Linked DNA regions of Homo sapiens. The protein of the gene in region 3 purifies or fractionates together with the protein of the main gene of each other region. This does not show direct contact. Each region holds a gene or a part of one and is shown on either strand. Other genes may lie near its edges. The genes, in order: UQCRFS1, NDUFAB1 and LYRM7.

What was found.
Region 1: the proteins of LYRM7 (region 3) and UQCRFS1 purify together in Homo sapiens (co-immunoprecipitation; 5 studies listed by BioGRID and IntAct, with this or other methods). This does not show direct contact.
Region 2: the proteins of LYRM7 (region 3) and NDUFAB1 purify together in Homo sapiens (affinity purification with mass spectrometry; 4 studies listed by BioGRID and IntAct, with this or other methods). This does not show direct contact.

What each region holds. Positions count from the first base shown.
Region 1 is NC_000019.10:29,210,129-29,217,231, forward strand, and holds the start of UQCRFS1 (cytochrome b-c1 complex subunit Rieske, mitochondrial), read right to left. Parts: upstream 3,024-7,103; 5' UTR 2,991-3,023; coding exon 2,777-2,990; intron 1-2,776.
Region 2 is NC_000016.10:23,593,296-23,600,703, forward strand, and holds the start of NDUFAB1 (acyl carrier protein, mitochondrial precursor), read right to left. Parts: upstream 3,022-7,408; 5' UTR 2,996-3,021; coding exon 2,828-2,995; coding exon of another isoform or gene 2,793-2,827; intron 1-2,792. UniProt on the Homo sapiens protein: Carrier of the growing fatty acid chain in fatty acid biosynthesis.
Region 3 is NC_000005.10:131,194,870-131,201,979, reverse strand, and holds part of LYRM7 (complex III assembly factor LYRM7), read right to left. Parts: intron 2,450-7,110; coding exon 2,379-2,449; 3' UTR 1-2,378.

The DNA.
Region 1 (7,103 bases), on a different chromosome or scaffold from region 3:
AATGCGCCTTGGAAATCTGCATGAAAATAGTACAACCTTCCTCTCCAATTCAAGAATCTTCTCCAGATCCAACCCCTCCACTCCCATAAGCCATCCTGCCATGAACCATCTAGACAGACTATAATGTGAACTTAAATTACAGGCTGAAATGATTACAGAAAAGGTTTTTGCCTTATGGTTCTACATTATTTGCCTGTTTCTAAAAATAGTTTCTCTAAGTCAGGTAAACCTCCAATTTTTTTTTTATTATACTTTAAGTTTTAGGGTACATGTGCACAATGTGCAGGTTAGTTACATATGTATACATGTGCCATGCTGGTGTGCTGCACCCATTGACTCATCATTTAGCATTAGGTATATCTCCCAATGCTATCCCTCCCCCTCCCCCCACCCCACAACAGTCCCCAGAGTGTGATGTTCCCCTTCCTGTGTCCATGTGTTCTCATTGTTCAATTCCCACCTATGAGTGAGAACATGCAGTGTTTGTTTTTTGTCCTTGCGACAGTTTACTTAGAATGATGATTTCCAATTTCATCCATGTCCCTACAAAGGACATGAACTCATCATTTTTTATGGCTGCATAGTATTCCACGGTGTATATGTGCCACATTTTCTTAATCCGGTCTATCATTGTTGGACATTTGGATTGGTTCCAAGTCTTTGCTATTGTGAATAGTGCCCCAATAAACATACATGTAAATGTGTCTTTATAGCAGCATGATTTATAGTCTTTTGGGTATATACCCAGTAATGGGATGGCTGGGTCAAATGGTATTTCTAGTTCTAGATCCCTGAGGAATCTCCACACTGACTTCCACAATGGTTGAACTAGTTTACAGTCCCACCAACAGTGTAAAAGTGTTCCTATTTCTCCACATCCTCTCCAGCACCTGTTGTTTCCTGACTTTTTAATGACTGCCATTCTAACTGGTGTGAGATGGTATCTCATTGTGGTTTACAGGCAACCTAAAAATTGGGAGAAAATTTTTGCAACCTACTCATCTGACAAAGGGCTAATATCCAGAATCTACAATGAACTCAAACAAATTTACAAGAAAAAAACAAACAACCCCATCAAAAAGTGGGCGAAGGACATGAACAGACACTTCTCAAAAGAAGACATTTATGCAGCCAAAAAACACATGAAAAAATGCTCAGCATCACTGGCCATCAGAGAAATGTAAGCCTCCAATTTTTTGAAGAAACTTTAGCAACACGACGAATTCCAAAGATGCTTTTCTTTTGCTATTGAAATGTTCTCCTTCCTTCCTTCTCACCTCCAGGTCCCAAGGATGGGCTAGGGTACTCTACACCTGCCATGGACAGTTTCTTCAAAACCCACTGATGCTCCTTAACAAATATTCATTCACAAATACTTTGCACTAACTGTATACAAAATCCGACGTTGTGAAAGATAGAAAAATAAAGAAGATATTACCTTCTCTATGCCCTTAAGCCCAAGGGTGGAGGAGTTACCAATAAACACAATACAGAGTGTAAAGTGTATGTGCTACAGAGACAGACAAATCAGCAAATAAAAACTTTATTCACCTGATCCTTAACTGAGATTGAAAAGATGGGTAAGGAAAACATATGGACATGTAGCAACTTAGTGGAAGGACCATGAAGAAAGTGCAGAGCCCAGGGTGAATGAAGACAGAGTAAAAAGAAAAGTGGCGGGCAATTTGGTTAGCGTGTAGGGGAAGAGTCACAAACAGCTATCAGTGGAGCCAGGCTGGTAACAGAATGAAACACGCAGACCTGGTAAAGACTGTGACAAACTGGAGAAGACCACTTGCTCCAACTGCGGGGGCGGCCACTACACAGCACACTATGGAATTTTCCCAAGTAGAAACTAGATCCCAGTATTACCGGCTTCCAGCATTTTAAGAGATGCCATTAGTCTTCCCAGTTTTTTTGAAAACTACACAGCCTGCAGACACACTGCCCACAGGCTGCCATTTCTCTATCTCCGATACAGGGCCAAGTAAAGATGGAAGGCGAGGCAAAGAAGATAAACGGGGATCTAAGGACAGAGGGTGTGGAATAGCCCCTGCGAAGAGCTCAGTGGCTACGACAATTCGTCTTGTCAAATCCCTGCTACCACATGTCCACACCACGGATCCTGGTGCGAGTCATTCTACCTCGTCTGTTTTCTCATCTGTAAAATGTAAATGTCGTCAATCTCTGCCCGTCCTTGACGACTGATTATGTTGTGACACTACACTGTAACTGACCTTGTGTATGTTTTTTTTGTTTTTTTTTTGGTGGGGGGGTGATGAAGGGGAAGGACATGAAGGGATCGGTAGTGGTGAGAAGACCAACTTCCCAAATATTAGTAAGTTTCCATTTCTTAAGCATGTAAGTGCCCAAACTGTGCTAACGGCTTTACGTAGAATTCCTCCACCTAAGCCTCACGACACCCCTACAAAATTGATAAAGATATGAATCCATTTCACAGGAAGTACGTTTAGAAACTCGCCCAAGGTCAAACGACCTGCAAGCAACAAAACCCCTCAGAGGTGGCTGGAACAGCGGGACTACAGAGCTCGTGAACTCGGCCGAGGAGGAACCAGGCGAAGCCGGCGGACGCGAGTCCAGGCCGGCCACCAGAAAGACGCCCCGAGCCCGGGGGCCAGGCCCAGAGTTGCGGAGGCCGCCCAGCCCGACCTGATTCAGGCTCCGCTCGCGCGCCCGCGGCCGCTCCCTGCTGGGGGCCGGAGGAGCGGGCACCGAGAGACCCCCAGCCCTGCTCGCGGCCCTCGCCCCGGCTCACCATTGAGGCCCACGGAGGCGACCAAAGGCCGGCGCACGGCCTGGCCGCTCAGCGACTCCCGGCTGAGGAAGGGCCGCTTCAGGTCCAACACAGGCTGCTCCGGGGTGGCGGGCACCGTGGCCTGCACCAAGGGCCGCAGCGCGCCCGCCACCCCGCGGGACGTGGCCGACAGGACGGGCGCGAACGGGCCTGAGCGGGATGCTACCGACAACATGGCGACAGCCGCTCCAACCGCCAAGCCGGTCACAGGGACGACCTTCCAACCACGGCGCAGGCGCGAGGAGGCGCGGGACGCGTGACGACAGCGCGCCGCCGGAAAGGAAATTCTGCAGTCCTGCAGGGCGGGGCAAACTTGGAGAGGCGCTGCGTCGGGGGACGGGGCTACAAGCCGTCGCTGGGGGCGGGGCTTGCGGCCCACCTGTAGGTCCCGGTGCCACCTCGTCAGTGTCCCGAGAGATCCCCAGAAGAACGAGAGGGCTGAACAGGGGACCCCACTGACGTCCGGTGGGCCGACTTTACGATCCTTTAGGGTAAAAATTTCATCTAGGAAGACCTAGAGATAACAATAAACGATTATAGTTTAACTTAGGATGGTAATATATCTCAACTACGACGAAGTCCAGCACATAGTAATCGCTATGTGTTTACTATGATGATTTTTATTATCTTCATCTAACAACAACAACAACAAAAAGGCCAGAGGCATCTGTGCAAAGCTCGATAATGCTAATGGATTATGTTTATTAAGTATTCACTGTGTATTTGGTTTTGCGTTTTATTATACCTACGTTCTTTCATTTGTTATCAAGGTCTCTATGAAGTCAGAGCTATTACTATCAGCATTTTACCCATGAAGAAACCGAGGTTTAGAGAGATTCTTTTCCAGGAACTGGATAGCCAGCAAGATGTGAAGCAGGGTAATCTGTCTCCTGAGTCTATGCTCTTCAGTGCCACCACTGTTTCCCAAAGTAGGATTTTAGAATTTTAGAGGATGCACAGAGCTCGCTCATTCATGTTCCATCACATAGTGAGAAAGTTTTGTTTTCTTTTGTTTTGTTTTTCAATCCTGATTGCACCAATGAGAAAGTCTCAGTTTGGTGCTAATACATCTTTAATTAAAAAAAAAAAAAAGTAGAGATGAGGTCTCACTATATTGCCCACTCCAGTCTCGAACTTCTGGCCTCAAGGAGTCCTGTCTCCCCCTCCCAAAGTACTGGGATTATAGGCATGAGCAAATTCACTTGGCCTCAGTTTGATCCTAATATATCTTTAATTCCTCTCTACACTTATCTCCCACTTTTAACAGAAAAGATCTTGAGTTAGAAGCTCTTAGCAGAGAACTGAGTCTAGAGTGATTTCATTATATGGTTCATAGTATTGATTTTCTATCCATACTGGTTTTCTATTCTGTACTATACTGAGATAAAGTTTTTCATTTAGGTCAAAAATAATTTAAATATTAAGTAAATGTTAATATAAGCAGTGCACAGAATTGGCTCTGTGCTGTGCATGGGCTCTGTGATCTGGGCAAGTTCCCTCACCTCTCTGTGCCTCAGTTTCCTCACCTGCCAAATGGGGGCAGTAATGATGCCATGTGTGTTGTAAAGTTACTGGGAGGAGTAAATGAACTAAAACGTGTAAAGCATCTACAAGCAGGCCCAGCACACAGGCAGCACCAAGTGAGGATTTGCTAGTGGTGTTTTTATCTGAGATGCCACCTCCTCTAAGAAGCCTTCCCTTGATCCTTGCTGACTCGTTGTTATTCCTCATGCCAGGTCCAAAGTGTACTGACAGGTTTCCCCTTTGACCTTCCTATGACTCCCCTTAGGGCCTAGGCTTTGACCAGCCTTATAGCCCAAGGGACTATATTGTACTCTCAAGATTGGAGGCTGCCTCCTCAGGGGCCACCCTAGCCAGGCTCATCACACAGCTGGCTCAGTGCTCTCCCTTGGCAACAACCTTAGGATAAAAGACATTTCCAGAGAAGTTGTCACACAGCATGCATGGTTTGAGTGCTTCACAAGAAATAATATCACAATTCCCTCTGAGTTGGTAAGGAAATGAAAAATGAATGAATGAATGAATGATCCTTCACAAAACCTTCACAATGTCCCAGTTGGGTGAACAGAATAGGAATTATCTCCAGACCTCCTGGGTTCAATTTTAGTTTCACCACTCACTAGCTGTGCCCTAGGGCAAGTTATTTAATCTCTGTGTGTGCCTCCGTCTTTCTCTTGTAAAACAGAGATAATAACAGGATCTACCCTAGAGAGTTATTTTAAGGATGAGATGGATTAATACATGTAAAATGCCTAGAACTGTGCCTGGCACACAGTATGTAAATATCTGCAATAATAATAACTTTCTATTTTCTAGATGAAGAAACTAAGACTCAGAGAAGACAAATGACATGCCCAAAGACACATTGATAAGAACGCATCTGGTAGTGGTGTTCGAGTCCAGCGTTGCAGCAGAGAGATGGGTAACTGTATGGCCGAACAGCTGTCTTCTCGTGGAAGAAGGAGGCCAATGTCCAGGAGTGGCAGGCATACTGGAACTTGGACTTCTGTAGGCCAACCTGGGTTCCACTTGGTAGATGGGGGTCTTGCTGTGTTGCCCAGGCTGGTCTCAAACTCCTGGCCTGAAGCAGTCCTCCTCCCTTAGCCTCCAGAGTAGCTGGGACTACAGGTACACACCACTGCAACCCCTCAGTGGTTGTTATTTAACTGAAGGGGGTTTTAGCTTTCATGTATCAGCTCACTCTGGAGCCAGACAGCCTGGCCTTCATGGCAGCTCTGCCCCTTACTACCTGTGTGACATCGGGCAACGTTACTGAGTGTCAGATTTCTTATTTGTAAAACAGGGATAAAAATGACATTGCTGTGCAAATTAAAAGAAAGAATCCATGTGAGATATTTAGCACACTGGCATACAATGAGAGCTTAATAAACATTGTTAGTTTTGTAAACTGAGGGAAAAAAATAGCCACAGGCCTGGGAACATAAATGCTTGGTAAGCTTCTCAGTTCCCTGGAAGTCTGACACGCAATGTGTATGTATGAACAAGGCAGGAGGAAGCATGACACCAAGCCTTCCTTTTAACAAACACTGTTTAAATCAGAGGTCGGAAGTCATGGACTGGAGATTCATTCTCTCCCCACTCATTTCTGCCCAGAGACACCTGGTGATCTGGCATACACAGTGCTATGAACCTCAGAATTATTTGCTAGCATTTACAAATTGTGAGTACTCCCACATACAAACTGTGGTAGATGGAATAATGCCTCCCCACAAAAATGTCCACAGCCTAATCCCTGGAACCTGGGAATATGTTACTTTACACAGCAAAGGAATGTTGCAGCTGTGATTGGAGATTGAGATAGGGAGAGTGTATTAGTCTGTTGTCATGCGGCTATGAAGAAATACCTGAGACTGGGTAATTTACAAAGAAAAGAGGTTTAATTCACTTACAGCTCAGCACGGCTGGTTGGGGGGGCGCCCTCAGGAAATTTACAATCATGGTAGGAGGCACCTCTTCACAGGGTGGCAGGAGAGAAAATAAGAGCAGAGCGAAGGGGGAACCCCTTATAAAACTGTCAGATCTCATGAGAACTCACTGTCATGAGAACAGCATGGGGGAAACCGCCCCCATGATCCATCACCTCCACCTGGTCCCCCCCTTGTTACAATTCAAGGGGATTGTAACAATTCAAGGTGAGATCTGGGTGGGGACACAGAGCCAAACCATATCAGAGAGTCTTCCTGCAGTGTCCGGGTGGGTGCGGCATGTTCATAGGGTCTTAGAAGAGGGAAGCAAGAGGTGAGAGGACAGAAATGCCACATTGCTGGCTTTGAGGGTGGGGCCAGAGGAGGGACCTGCAGGCAGAGATAGAGCTGGAAATGGAAAGGAAACCTTCTCCCTTAGAGTCTCCAGAAGAAGTGCAGCCCTACAGACCTGTGTTAGGCTTCAGACCTCCAGAATTGTAAAATAATAAAATTGCATTATTTTAAGCCACTCGAGGCCCATGTCCTCAACAAAGAGAAAGACGGTGGGGTGCTGTCAGCCAGGGTAGGTACCTGCTTGGTGGTCTGGGTCCTTTCCCACTGTGTCCATTCAGTTACATTACCTGCCCATCTGCTGAGGCCTCGAGTTTGGGACCTCAGGTTTATATAATTCCTTGCACAAGCATGATCGATTGATTCCGGAGAGTAGCAGAACACTGATATGCAGGGGAATCTCCTAGTTCCAAGTGTGAGTTGTAGTCTAGACACTTCCTGTTCCCTACAGTCTTTTTTTTTTTTTTTTTTTTTTTTGAGACAAAGTTTTG
Region 2 (7,408 bases), on a different chromosome or scaffold from region 3:
GGTAGGAGGACAAACCAACCAAGGGAGAACAGTGTCACAACAGCCTAGGGAAGAAGACAGCAGCAGAGAAGGAGCCAGCAAGTTGGACATAAGGGCTGCAAAGCGTTCAATGAAGATGTAAGCTAATGTCTTCCTTTTGTATCCATCTCTGTATCTCTCAACAGCTAGCATGAGTCCTGGCACACAGCTGGCCCTCAATATCTTTGAATGAACTTAGTCAAAACCACTTTGTAAATATAAATAAAATGGTTCCTCTGCTATATATGCAAGCCAAGCCGCCATAGTGGAACATTTCTGAGCTCCTTGCCATTCAAAGCATGGTCCAAGGAACACCCGCAGCAGGATCTTCTGGAAGCCCACTGGAGGTGGAAACTCTCTGGCCCCTTCCCAGAACTGAATCAGAATCTGTATTCCAGCCTAAGTGATCTGTATGTCCAATCAACTGAGAATCAATGCTGTAAGAACAAAGACAGTCACTTCACATTTTAGCCCAATGTTGAAATCAATCTTAGGAACCAGACACTCATCAATTCTAACTACTGCCTTTTTAACCCTTATTTATTTATTTATTTATTTATTTATTTATTTATTTATTTATTTATTGAGATGGAGTCTGGCTCTGTCGCCCAGGCTGGAGTGCAGTGGCACGATCTCGGCTCACTGAAAGCTCTGCCTCCCGGGTTCATGCCATTCTCCTGCCTCAGCCTCCCGAGTAGCTGGGACTACAGGCGCCCGCCACCACGCCCGGCTAATTATTTTGTATTTTTAGTAGAGACGGGGTTTCACCGTGTTAGCCAGGATGGTCTCCATCTCCTGACCTCGTGATCCGCCCGTCTCGGCCTCCCAAACTGCTGGGATTACAGGCGTGAGCCATCGCGCCTGGCCTTTAACCCTTAATTTCAAGGTGACACTTTTCACCTTTTGATACAGCCAACAGGGCAGTGCCCAATGAATGAATCCATTACACTGTCAGTGAACAGCAACACTGGCTTCACAAAAGAAACACTTGATGACTTCTAAAAATAGTCGCCTAGTACTCACTTCTAGATTCTGTCGATCTGGCACGGGCTGGCTGGCTTATTTAAGACGGTCTGCCTCCCAGACTGGAGTGCAGTGGCATCATCTCAGCTCCCTAAAACCTCTGCCTCCTGGGTTCAATCGATCCTCCCACCTCAGCCTCCTGAGTAGCTGGGACTACAGGCGCGTGCCACCACGCCCGGATAATTTTTTGTATGTTTAGTAGAGACGGGGTTTCACTGTGTTAGCCAGAATGGTCTCGATCGCCTGACCTCGTGATCCGCCCGCCTCGGCATCCCAAAGTGCTGGGATTACAGGCATAAGCCACCGCGCCCGGCCTAATTTCTGTATTTTTTGTAGAGACGGGGTTCCACCATGTTGCCTAGGAGGGTCTCAAACTCCTGGGCTCAAGCGATTCGCCCGCCTCGGCCTCCCAAAGTGCTGGGATTACAGGCGTGAGCCACCACGCCTGGCCAGACACACTTATTTTTCACACTAACATGCAGTCAAGGTTGAAACCACTATTACCTGAAGTCTATGACTTTGAAAAGGGGTTTCATAACTTGACCTTGGGAGTCTATCCTACCTTAAGACGGTTATTTTTATTCCCAACTGCACTTCAGAGTCATCTGGAGAACTTAGAAAACAACAAAAAAAAGGCAGGGCGCGGTGGTTCACGCCTGTAATCCCAGCACTTTGGGAGGCCGAGGCGGGTGGATTGCGAGGTCGGGAGTTCAAGACCAACCTGGCCAATATGATGAAACCCCGTCTCCACTAAAAATACAAAACTTAGCCGGGCATGGTGGCGGGCGCCTGTAGTCCCAAATACTCGGGGGGGCTGAGGGAGGAGAATTGCTTGAACCTGAGAGGCGGAGGTTGCCGTTAGCCGGAGGTTGCAGTGAGCTGAGATCACGCCACTGCATTACAGCCTGGGTGACAGAGCGAGACTCTGTCTCAAAAACAACAACAACAACACCGAAATCACTGCCTCCCGGCGTTTCAGCCTCACGCAGATTTCATCAGCTCAAGCTATATACTACAGGTACAGTCGTTCCTTGGTATTTGCGCAGATTGGTTCCAGGACCCCCGACTATACCCAAATCCCCGCACACTCACGTCCCGCAGTCAGCCTTGCAGAATCCGCTTATAGGAAGAGCCTGCCCTCCTTATACGCGGGGCGGCACATCCCGTAAATACTGGTCGCGTTTGGTTGAAAAAAAATCCGCATATAAGTGGACCCGCGCAATTCAAATCCTTATTGGTCAAAGGTCACTTGGCTTGTTTCCTAGAATTACTTCCAGGAGTCCTGGACACAGGCAGAAGGTGCTGCAGGGAAGAGTAAGGACAGAACTGCAGAGAGAAAACCGCTCTGGAGAAGGCTGTAGGCCAGTGTGGCTGCCTCTTTGCATGCTGCTTTCACTACAATACGGTGACCGCTATTTTGAGACCGTACGAGGTGCTCTAGCCGCATTAACTCATCTAATCCTCATTGCTACTCCGCAAGGTAGAGACCAGGATCCCAATTTTGCAGGTGAGTGTGAGCCAGGCTAGGAGACTTGTCCAAAGTTTCGGTAAGCGGCAGCCCAGCAGTGCTGGACTCGAGTCAGTGCTCTTGCTCGTTATTACGAGGTCACCCGGCCTCCCGTCAGGGGTCAACTAAACACCTTTAGGCAGCGGGGCTGCGGAGCGAGCCGGCTGCCCCCCGGGTCACCCCTGCCTGCAGCTGGCGCGCCCCGGATGCCCGGCCCCCACCCCCACCGGGCCCAATCCCTGACCCTTGCCAAGCGGCAGCAAAGTCACCACGAGTCACCTGCGCGAGCACTAAGGCCGGCTGCAAAGTCCCGAGCCTCGTCTGGGTCCCCGCGGAGCAGAGAGCGGTGCTGAGAGGCCGGGCCACGGCCAGCATCCGGACCCGGGGCAGCGGCGCAAAGGCCGCGGGCAGGCGGCTGACATAGGCTGAAAGGACACGAGACGCCATGGCTACGCCAACCCAGGATGCACTGCGCCGCCGCCTCCGGACCAGGGTTCCTTTCCGGCGGCGCGCAGGCGACGCACACGGCAGCGCTGTCGGGCACCGCCGGCGGTGGCGGCCCCTGGCGGCTCCTGGAGGCACTGCGCCCTCGGAGCCCATCCAGGTTCGGGGACGAACAACTGCTTGGTGTCACAACTAAACTGTGCAGACGTCGCCGTCTTTCCCTAAACGACACGGCACGAGAAACCTACTTTCATTTTTTATCTGAAAGTTCTGAAATACATCTGTTTAAACGTTTGGGGCCGGGTGCGGTGGCTGACGCCTTTAATCCTAGCACTTTGGGAGGCCAAGGTGGCAGGACTGTTTGAGCTCAGGAGTTCAAGACCAACCTGGCCAACACGGCAAGACTCCGTCTCTATTACAAAAAAGATTAAAAGAAAAAAAGGACAAAGTTTTGATTCCACAATTCTTCCACAAGTATTAACATTTATTGAATAGGTAAAAAAATATATATAATAATGTGAAAAAATAATCAATTTCAATACCTAAGACTAATAAATGTGAGAATTACGATTAAAACAATATACATGTTTTAAAACTTGACAGTGTATAATATAGCTGTCAGGTCCACGACTATGCCAACTGTCATGCCCACAGCCAGGTTCCAGCCCATATCGAGGTCTGAGGGGAGTGGGTGGATGAACAGATAGCTGAAAGAACACTCAGGGGACGGTAGGCAGGTGAAAGATGATTTTATTCAGCAGCAGCTCTCATCAGCAGCTTACTTACACTAGTTCTCTCACACTGTCTGCCTTGTCTCAGCTGCTTAGTCCCATGGCTCCCCCACACAACTGCGAGGCTGGCTCTCCCTTGCCTTCAGGGTCAGCAGCTTAACTCTCTCTCAGCTGTGATCTGGCTCCCCCTGTCTGTCTGCAAAGACTGACAGCTCTGGCTCTCTCTTTCTCTGGGCACGAACGCCTGTACAGTATCAGCAGGGCAATTATACCTTTTACAGAAAATAGTGGCTTAGAGCCAAGTGATGACCTTCCCATGTTATGCCTACATGGCTGTGATAACAAGTGGAGTTATACGCCTCTGTCTAAACTTGCTGAGTCACGCAGGATGTAAACATCTTACCTTGGCCTATCCTTGACCAAAGCACAGCCATGTTCCTTACAATAGCTAACAAAAATAGGTAAGCGAGGGAGGAGTTTAAGAAGGCTAATTCCTATTTCTAAGCAGGGAGCTAAAGGATATTGACTGAAATGGAAACACACGGGATAATGACTCCAAATTCTGAAATCTGCCTGAATGAATGATCCAATAATGTCACCAGTTTTACCTCAATTTCTTTTTATTTTTGTTAAATCCAAGTAAAATAAAATGTAATGGTATGCTGCCAGGCGCGGTGGCTCATACCTGTAATCCCAGCACTTTGGGAGGCCAAGGTGGGTGGATCACGAGGTCAAGAGATCGAGACAATCCTGGTCAACATGGTGAAACCCCATTTCTACTAAAAATACAAAAATTAGTTGGGTGTGGTGGTGCGCGCCTGTAGTCCCAGATACTCAGGAGGCTGAGGCAGGAGAATCGCTTGAACTTGGGAGGCAGAGGTTGCAGTGAGCCGAGATTGCGCCACTGCACTCCAGGCTGGCAAAAGAGCAAGACTCCATCTCAAAAAAAAAAAACGAAAACAAAAAAAACATAGTTTCATCCCACTGTTGTAAAATAATTTCTATTTATTATAGCATTCCTTTAAAACTCGAGTGTCTGGGGGCCAGGCATGGTGGGTCAAACCTGTAATCCCAGCATTTTGGGAGGCTGAGGCAGGTGGATCACCTGATGTCAGGAGTTTGAGACCAACCTGGACAACATGGTGAAACCCCGTCTCTACTAAAAATACAAAAATTAGCTGGGTGTGGTGGCAGGTGACTGTAATCCCAGCTACTCAGGAGGCAGGAAGCTGAGACAGGAGAATTGCTTGAACCCGGGAGGTAGAGGTTGCAGGGAGCTGAGATCGCGCCATTGCACTCTAGCCTGGGCAACAAGAGTGAAGCTCCATCTCAAAAAAGTCTCAAAAAAAAATTGAGTATCTGTTACGTACTAATTGTTGAGGCTGCAACTGTGAGCAAGCCAGACAGGCAAGCCTGGTTCAGTGGCTCACCTCCGTAATCCCAGCACTTTGGGAGGCCAAGGGAGGTGGATCGCTTGAGCCCAGGAGTTTGAGATCAACCTAGGCAACACAGGGAGACCTTGTCTCCATAAAAAATTTAAAAAATTAGCCAGGCATGGTGATGCATGTCTGTGGTCCCAGCTGCTTGGGAAGCTGAGGTGGGAGGACCAATTGAGCCCAGGAGGTCAAGGCTGCAGTGAGCTATGATCACACCACTACACTCCAGCCTGGGCAACAGAGTGAGACTCTGTTTCCCAAAAAAATGTAGCTCTTAGCTTAGGAAGAACCTAATCCTACTAAGTTCACAATTGGGGCCATCTCTTCCCATGACCTATCTAGTCTTTCAGTGTTACACGTATGTATGTATATATGTATGTATGTATGTATTTATAGAGATGGGGTTTCACCGTGTTAGCCAGGGTGGTCTCAAACTCCTGACCTCATGATCTGCCCGCCTCGGCCTCCCAAAGTGCTGGGATTACAGGCGTGAGCCACTGCACCCGGCCTCAGTGTTACATTTAATCCTTTTGGTAAAACATAACAAATCATCTCTTATTTAAATAATTTGGGAGAGCTACTTTTCCCTTCAGCAAACAAATAAAGACAAAATATCAGCCTACATGGCCTGTAGGGTAAAAGTCCCAATATTAAGATCACATCCTTAGCAGATGAGGAAGAGTTAAAAGACAACACCGGTGCTTTTCAGTAACATTCCCATCAAAGGATGGATAAGCATAAAAGCTGTCAGCTTCCCAGCACAAACTATCCCACCAACCCACCATGATCGCTCCCTCTGCCAGCCCATTTGCACGGTAGTCTCATCCCCTCTTATTCCCAATGGGACCTTATACCACCAGTTAGCTCTTCTTCCCTACATCTCAAAGGTCTCTCTTCTGGCTCTTTCTCCTGAACCCATAAACACATCAAAGTTCCTCTTAGCCTAAAAACAAAGTAAGAGGACCCTCCGCTGACCCTTTATAGATCTCTAATACCATTCCTCCTACCTTTCATAGACAAGCTGTTACATGTGGGGAAAAGCAAGAGAGATCAGATTGTTACTGTGTCTGTGTAGAAAGAAGTAGACATAGGAGACTCCATTTTGTTATGTACTAAGAAAAATTCTTCTGCCTTGAGATTCTGTGACCTTACCCCCAACCCCGTGCTCTCTGAAACATGTGCTGTGTCAACTCAGAGTTGAATGGATTAAGGGCGGTGCAAGATGTGCTTTGTTAAACAGATGCTTGAAGGCAGCATGCTCCTTAAGAGTCATCACTACTCCCTAATCTCAAGTACCCAGGGACACAAAAACTGCGGAAGGCCACAGGGACCTCTGCCTAGGAAAGCCAGGTATTGTCCAAGGTTTCTCCCCATGTGATAGTCTGAAATATGGCCTCGTGGGAAGGGAAAGACCTGACCGTCCCCCAGCCCGACACCCGTAAAGGGTCTGTGCTGAGGAGGATTAGTAAAAGAGGAAGGAATGCCTCTTGCAGTTGAGACAAGAGGAAGGCATCTGTCTCCTGCCTGTCCCTGGGCAATGGAATGTCTCGGTATAAAACCCGATTGTATGCTCCATCTACTGAGATAGGGAAAAACCGCCTTAGGGCTGGAGGTGGGACCTGCGGGCAGCAATACTGCTTTGTAAAGCATTGAGATGTTTATGTGTATGCATATCTAAAAGCACAGCACTTAATCCTTTACATTGTCTATGATGCAAAGACCTTTGTTCACGTGTTTGTCTGCTGACCCTCTCCCCACAATTGTCTTGTGACCCTGACACATCCCCCTCTTCGAGAAACACCCATGAATGATAAATAAATACTAAGGGAACTCAGAGGCTGGCGGGATCCTCCATATGCTGAACGCTGGTTCCCCGGGTCCCCTTATTTCTTTCTCTATACTTTGTCTCTGTGTCTTTTTCTTTCCTAAGTCTCTCATTCCACCTTACGAGAAACACCCACAGGTGTGGAGGGGCAACCCACCCCTACAGTTACACTTTTTCTTTTTGTCATTGTTTGAGACAGAGTCTCGCTCTGTCGCCCAGGCTGGAGTGCAATGGTGCGATCTTGGCTCACTGCAACCTCTGCCTCCTGGGTTCAAGCGATTCTCTGCCTCAACCTCCCGAGTAGCTGAGACTATAGGCGCCTGCCACCACTCCCGGCTAATTTTTGTATTTTTAGTAGAGACTGGGTTTCACCATTTTGGCCAGGCTGTCCTTTCTGCCCAGAATATCCGTTGCTTCTGCTTTG
Region 3 (7,110 bases):
TACCTCTAGTCTCAGCTATTTGGGAGGCTTAGTTGGCATAACTGCTGAGCCCCAGGGGTCAAGGCTTTAGTGGACCATGACCATGCCACTGCACTCCAACCTGGGTGACACAGCAGAACTCAATCTCAAAAAATAAATAAATAAATTAGCATATGCTATATAAGAATAGAGTGCGACATCTTTCAGAATTTTGTGACAGTCAAGCCTGTTGTTGACATGTTTATATACTTCACAGGAACTTTATTTATTTATTTATTTTTGAGACGGAGTTTCACTCTTGTTGCCTAGGCTGGAGTGCAATGGTGCGATCTCGGCTCACTGCAACCTCCGTCTCCTGGGTTCAAGCAATTCTCCTGCCTCAGTCTCCCGAGTAGCTGGGATTACAGACATGTGCCACCACACCTGGCTAATTCTGTATTTTTTTTAGTAGAGACAGGGTTTCCCCATGTTGGTCAGGCTGGTCTAGAACTCCTGACCTCAGGTGATCTGCCTGCCTCGGCCTCCCAAAGTGCTGGGATTACAGGCGTGAGCCACTGCGCCCAGCCAGGAACTTTCAGGAACTTTATTGTGTAGTCTTATGGCATGAAAGTACAATATCATATCTACCTATCTGTATCAATATATCTTTTTTTTTTCCTTTTTCCTTTTTTTTTCTTTTTTTTTTTTGAGACAGAGTCTCACTCTGTCCCCCAGGCTGGAGTGCAGTGGCACAATCTCAGTTCACTGCAACCTCCACCTCCCGGGTTCAAGTGATTTTCCTGCCTCAGCCTCCCGAGTAGCTGGGACTACAGGCGCCCGCCACCATACCTGGCTAATTTTTGTGTTTTTAGTAGAGATGGGGTTTCACCACATTGGCCAGGCTGGTCTCGAACTCCTGACCTTGTGATCTGCCCGCCTCAGCCTCCCAAAGTGCGGGATTACAGGTGTGAGCCACAGCGCCCGGGCCTATATCAATATATCTTAAAATTTCTAAGCCACTATCTTTAATAAACATGTGAATTATTAATCTCATCTGCTACTAATAATGACTATAAGAAAGAAATCTGGAGTTATTTAAATTAATATGAATGAAAAATGGAACAGGGAATTCAGGTTAAAGAAAAAAGCTCAGTGATAAAATATTCAATAACACTAAAATATAGAATATATATTAAATTTAAATAACGTCAGCCAACTTTCCTCAAAATATGTCATATAGACACTAAAATAACTGTAAGTCAGCACATTTATATAGTGATTATATACTGCGATGACATTCAGCATTCTCTTAAAAGGGCAAATTTCAAATTTGAAACGACTTTCATTTTTCTCTAGGTATAATTTCTAGATACATAACAATGCTTGCATTGAGAATCTTGCAAAAATTAAAAACCCTGTATCATCATCAAATGAGAGAATTTATCAGTGAATGGGAGAAAACATACTATTCACTGAGAAAATAGAATGGCAAAGATACACAGATAAAAGAGAAACAAGAAGAATATTAAACAGTATTTTACAGTTCCTAGTGTTAGATGGTAGAATGCCAGGACCTTTTGTGATACTGCCCATCTTGTCAAGGACAGGACATGTGGAAGAAGAGAAGCCATTTAAGTTTCATTAATTAAAACGATGAGAATGTAGCCACCGATTACATTTCACACTAAAGTCTAACTTTGTCTAAATACAGCTAATTCTACTAAGGCCATATTAAATAGTTTGATCAAGGGCCACTATTTCCTCTTTAAACTAGGATTTCTTTATTCCATAGTGACCCTAGGTGACTATAATATTTTATTCATCTATTTTCAGAAAACTGATAAAAAATGTCTTCATAAGAACACAGAGATACTCTCTATCTCTAAAAAGAAACTGTACAATTATATATTAGCTACAGAAATAATCCCAGTGCTTTAGAAAACAAAGGCCACTTTCTGTAGAGAGCTGGCATACACTGTGATTTTTTTGACCAATTTAATATTTTTCAGGACTAAATATCATTTTAATCTAACAATTTAAATGTAATAATTGCATTTCACATGGCAGGAAAACTCACCAATTTGTAAAAGCACCACATTCTCAAATAGCTATGGTAAGATCAAATACTCATCAAGGTCAAAGATTGAATATATCTCCCTAAGCATTTACTTTGCTTTATGAAATTTGATTTTCAATGAAAATGAAATGTTTTCTTATCTAATTTCCTTTAGAAATACTTAATTATGTTCTTTAGTTCTCAGTAATGACCTTTTAACATGAAATTTAAATATGAAGCTATTCTGTAATTCATTCATTTTCAATATGCCAGTTCAGGGAAAATGTCTGCATTTCCAGGACTTTTGCCAGAGTTGTAGATTTTAAAGTTAAAAAGTACAAAGACTTGTTGTATTCTAGAAAACTCATTGCTTCTGAGTTGGTGCATCACAATATGGCACATTTTCTACAAGAAGGTCTTTCCTAGGGACCAGTTCTGAAAGAAAAAAAAAAAAGAGAATAATTAACATCACTAAAATTAGAATTAAATGCAAGGACACTCATTTCCCCCTAAAATTTAAAATAGTAAAATATCCAGTTTTAAGATAAATCTTCCAGGGATATTTTATTTCAGTTGATATCTAAGGTGGCATCCTTGACTCTAATTAGAATTAATAGCATTCTCATTTCAGATTATATAAAAACATATATGATCCACTTAACCCTTTATCATTAAATATAGCAAATCAAATAACTGAAGAGAATTCAGCTAAAACTTCTATTATTGGTCATTTAATTACCAATTACTGATAATGAAAACAACTGGAAATTTTGCTTATACTATCTACTATATGAAAAGCAAGACTGGTCTCCTAATTTAAAGATTCTAAATTTTAAATAACAATTGTTCTTAAAAGAGGGTGTTTTGTGTGGTCATATCAACTGGAGAATGCTACTGGAATTTAGTGGGCAGGAGCCAGGGATGCTAAACCTTCTGTAATGGGTGGAACAGTCTGGCATAGTGAAGAACTGTCCTGTCAAAAATGCCAATAGTGCCCACATTGAGAAATATCATAAAACAACAACAAAAACCTGTTGAGTCCTAGGTAAGACATCTTGCTGGAGTTAAGATAAAGCTCTTAAGATACAAATTTTTGGCCGGGTGTGGTGACTCACGGCTGTAATCCTAGAACTTTGGGAGGCTAAGGAGGGATGATCATTTGAGGTCTAGAGTTGGAAACTAGCCTGACTAACATGGTGAAACCCCATCTCTACTGAAAAAAAAAAAAAAAATCAGCTGGGTGTGGTGGTGCATGCCTGTAATCCCAGCTACTCAGGAGAATGAGGCACAAGAATCGCTTGAACATGGGAGGCGGAGGTTGCAGTGAGTGAGCCGAGATGGTGCCACTGCACTCCAGCCTGGGGGACACAGTGGCAGTCCACCTCAAAAAAAAAAAATTCCAAATTTTTGAGGAGATACATTGATTTCTTCTTCTTTTCTCCAGAAGAGCTGAACCTAGATGAGCTATCAATCAAAAAATGCTTGCACGACCTTCTACAAAATAACCTGCCTATACTTTTCAAAACATCATGGACATGAAAGACGAAGAAAGACTGAAGGACTGCTCTAGATTAAGGATACCTAAAGAGACATGATGACTACATGCAATGTGTGATCCCCAATAGGATACTGGTCCACAGGGAATTTTTTTTCCTTTTGCCATAAAATACATTATTAGGACAAATGGAAAGATTAAATGATAGCATTGCATCAATATTAATACCCTGGTTTTGGTCATTATATTGCAGTTACATTAGAGAATGTCCTTGTATATTTAGGAAATACACACTGAAGTATCTTAAAAAAATATACTCTAAGGTATTTCTCCAGGAGATCTAGACCCAAATGGGCTGTCATAATTCTAAAAATGTTCATTTGGGGTAAATAGGCATTATGTCTGCAACTTACTCTCAGAAAGTTCAGGAAAAAAAAATGAGGGAAACACAATAAGGCAAATATGGTAAAATGTTAGCATTTGTAGAATCTGGGTAAAGGAAATTCTCATACCCTTCAACTTTTGCACTTTTTTTGTAAATCTGAATTATTTCAAAATAAAAAGGTTTTAAAAATATATATATTTACACACACACACACACACACACACACACACACACACACAGTGGCCAGATGCAGCGGCTCATGCCTGTAATTCTGGCACTTTGGGAAGCTGAGGTGGGAAGATTGCTTGAGGCCAGGAGTTTGAGACCAGCTTGGGAAACACAGCGAGACTCTGTCTCTACAAAAAATTGTTTAAAAATTAGCTAGGCATGGTGGTGCACACCTGTATTCCTAGCTACTCAAGAGGCTGAGGCAGGAGGATTGCTTGAGCCCAGGAGTTTGAGATTACAGTGAGCAATAATTATGCTACTGCACTCCAGCCTGGGAGACAGACTCTCTCTCTCAAAAAAAAAAAAAAAAAAAAAAGACAGAAGACAACACTAAAACAAATTCAACCCAAAAGGCAAACTGAATATTTCACTTAATTAAGAAAGAACTGGTCTGACTAAGAATAGTGCTCTTATTAGCCAGATGATAAATTTGGCTTACTGAAATGAAAACCAGTTAAATAAGTATTATTTAACCATTGTTTATATCTCACTTGCTTTTACCAAACCTATGGAGATTTCATCAGAGAATAAATTGTAGTGTGCATTTTAACTTGTTAACAATGGCAATAATTTGTTTCACTTATCAAACCTATATGTGCCTATTTCATGCTAGACATTACATCAAGAAATTAAGATATGAAGGTGAATATATAATAGTCTCTTCAGCTTCCAGAAACTCACAATCTAATGGAAAAGATAGCTAGATAAACAACAAATTATAGTATAATGTCATGTGTTACAAAAGTGGAACAAGACTTTTATGGGAGAATGGAAAAATAAATGGTTAAATATACCCATATCACTTTAGAGTATGTTCAGTTCTGAATAACCAAAGTCCAAAAGCTGGTTTAAATAAGTAAGAGATTTAATTTTTCTCACATTATCAATAAATACAGATTAAAGGACAGGCATGGTGGCTCATGCTTGTAATCACAGCACTTTGGGAGGCCGAGGTGGGCGGATCACAAAGTCAGGAGTTCGAGACCAGCCTGGCCAACACAGTGAAACCCTGTCTCTACTAAAAATACAAAAATTAGCTGGGCGTGGTGGCAGGCACCAGCTACCAGGGAGGCTGAGGCAGGAGAATCGCTTGAACCCAAAGGCAGAGGTTGCAGTGAGCCGAGATCGTGCCACTGTACTTCAGCCTGGGCGACAGAGCTAGACTCCATCTCGGAAAAAAAAAAAAAGAAATACAGATTAAGGCAGTTCTGGGCTAGTGCTTGTCCTTAGTGATACTAAGGACCCAGGCTCTTTCTCTCTTCCTGTTCTGCTACCTTCCATGAGTGGTTTTGTCTTCACTGCTGCTTGTCATATCACATCTGCACTCCAGATGGGAAGAAGAGAGAAAAGGGCAAAAGGAGAGTGCCAGCTCAGCCTGCTCCTTTTAAACAGGAAAACAATGACTTTCTTGGAAGTAACACCGAATAGACACGGTTTATATAGACCAGAAAGGTGTCACATGGTCTGGAAAATAACTTTTTTTTTGCTTGGTACATTGCACCCTGAACACAATTTCTCAGTTAGTAAAAAAGAACAGGAGAAGCCAAGCACGGTGGTTCACACCTATACTCCTAGTACTTTAGGAGGCCGAGGTGGTTGGATTGCCCGAGCGGTAGTCCCAGCTATTCAGGAGGTGTGAGGCATGAGAATCGCTTGAACCCGGGAGGCTGAGGTTGCAGTGAGCCAAGATCGTGCCACTGCACTCCAGCCTGAGCGACAGAAGGACACTCTATCTCCAAAAAAAAAAAAAAAAAAGAACAGGAGAATAGATACTGGAGAGGCAACAAGCACAACCCCTTTGGCTATGCAAAATGCATATAAATCCTTCTTTCCATCTGTAGCATACATCCACTCACTACCTGTCCCCTCAGGTCTCATCTAGACTGAAATCAAGGATGTTTGGTTACAGTGCTAGTGTTTCCATTAGGTCCTGCTGAGCCTCATTGTTCTAAGGTGGAGATACTGGGGAAGATGCCCTTCTTTGGGGCTTTAAAAGCTTTCATAGTCTACTTCCTGGTGATAGGAGTTTAGGGGCCCAGGGGTGGCCTTAAGAGGTGAAAAGAGCTAGCCAGGCCTGGAGTTTCTTGGCAATACAATTCACTCAAAAACTTTATAAGCTTCAAATTGGTTTCCAGTCATTTCCATGCACAAGTAGCCACAGAAAAATAAGGATGAAGACTGTCATCCTTTGGTAGCAGCCTCTACGTTCTGCCCATCTCCTTAACCCTTACCTTAGGGGCCACTTCTTAAAGCAATGAAGAATAGTAAGTTCCAGTCAGTAAATGAATCATATATCTAATCTTTGTCTGGAAGAATGAGAAAGTCTTGAGGCATCGATCTTATTTCATGTTACAGCTCAGAATTTCCCTGCTTGTACTGGCTTTAGTTTTAGTGGATAAGAACAATTAGCATTTTTAACTCTCCAAGGCTCTAAATTATGGGACTCTTAATCAATTAGACTCTAGGCTGTAGACAGAATTGTGCCTTTTAGCAAAGTAATACTTTTTTCTATCTCTGCTTTGTGGGCTAGCTTAATCTGCATTCAACCTCTTTTTCAATTTTATTTATCATTATTATTATTTTTTGAGACAGAACCTTGCTCTGTCTGTCGCCCAGGCTGGAGTGCAGTGGCTGTGATCTCGGCTCACTGCAACCTCTGCCTCCCATGTTCAAGCAATTCTCCTGCCTCAGCCTCCCGAGTAGCTGGGATTACAGGCGCCCACCACCATGCCTGGCTAATTTTTATATTTTTCAGTAGAGACGGGGTTTCACCATGTTGGCCAGGGGGCTGGTCTCAAACTCCTGACCTCAGGTGATCTGCCCACCTCAGCCTCCCAAAGTGCCGGGATAACAGGTGTGAGCCAGCGATCCCGGCCAATTTTATTTTGCCTAACTCATATCACCAGGAAGTGGACTATAAAAGCTTTAACTGTTGGTCTTTGTTACTAGTCACAGAAGCAGCCTCTGGCTGCTTAGAAGCTGGAAAGG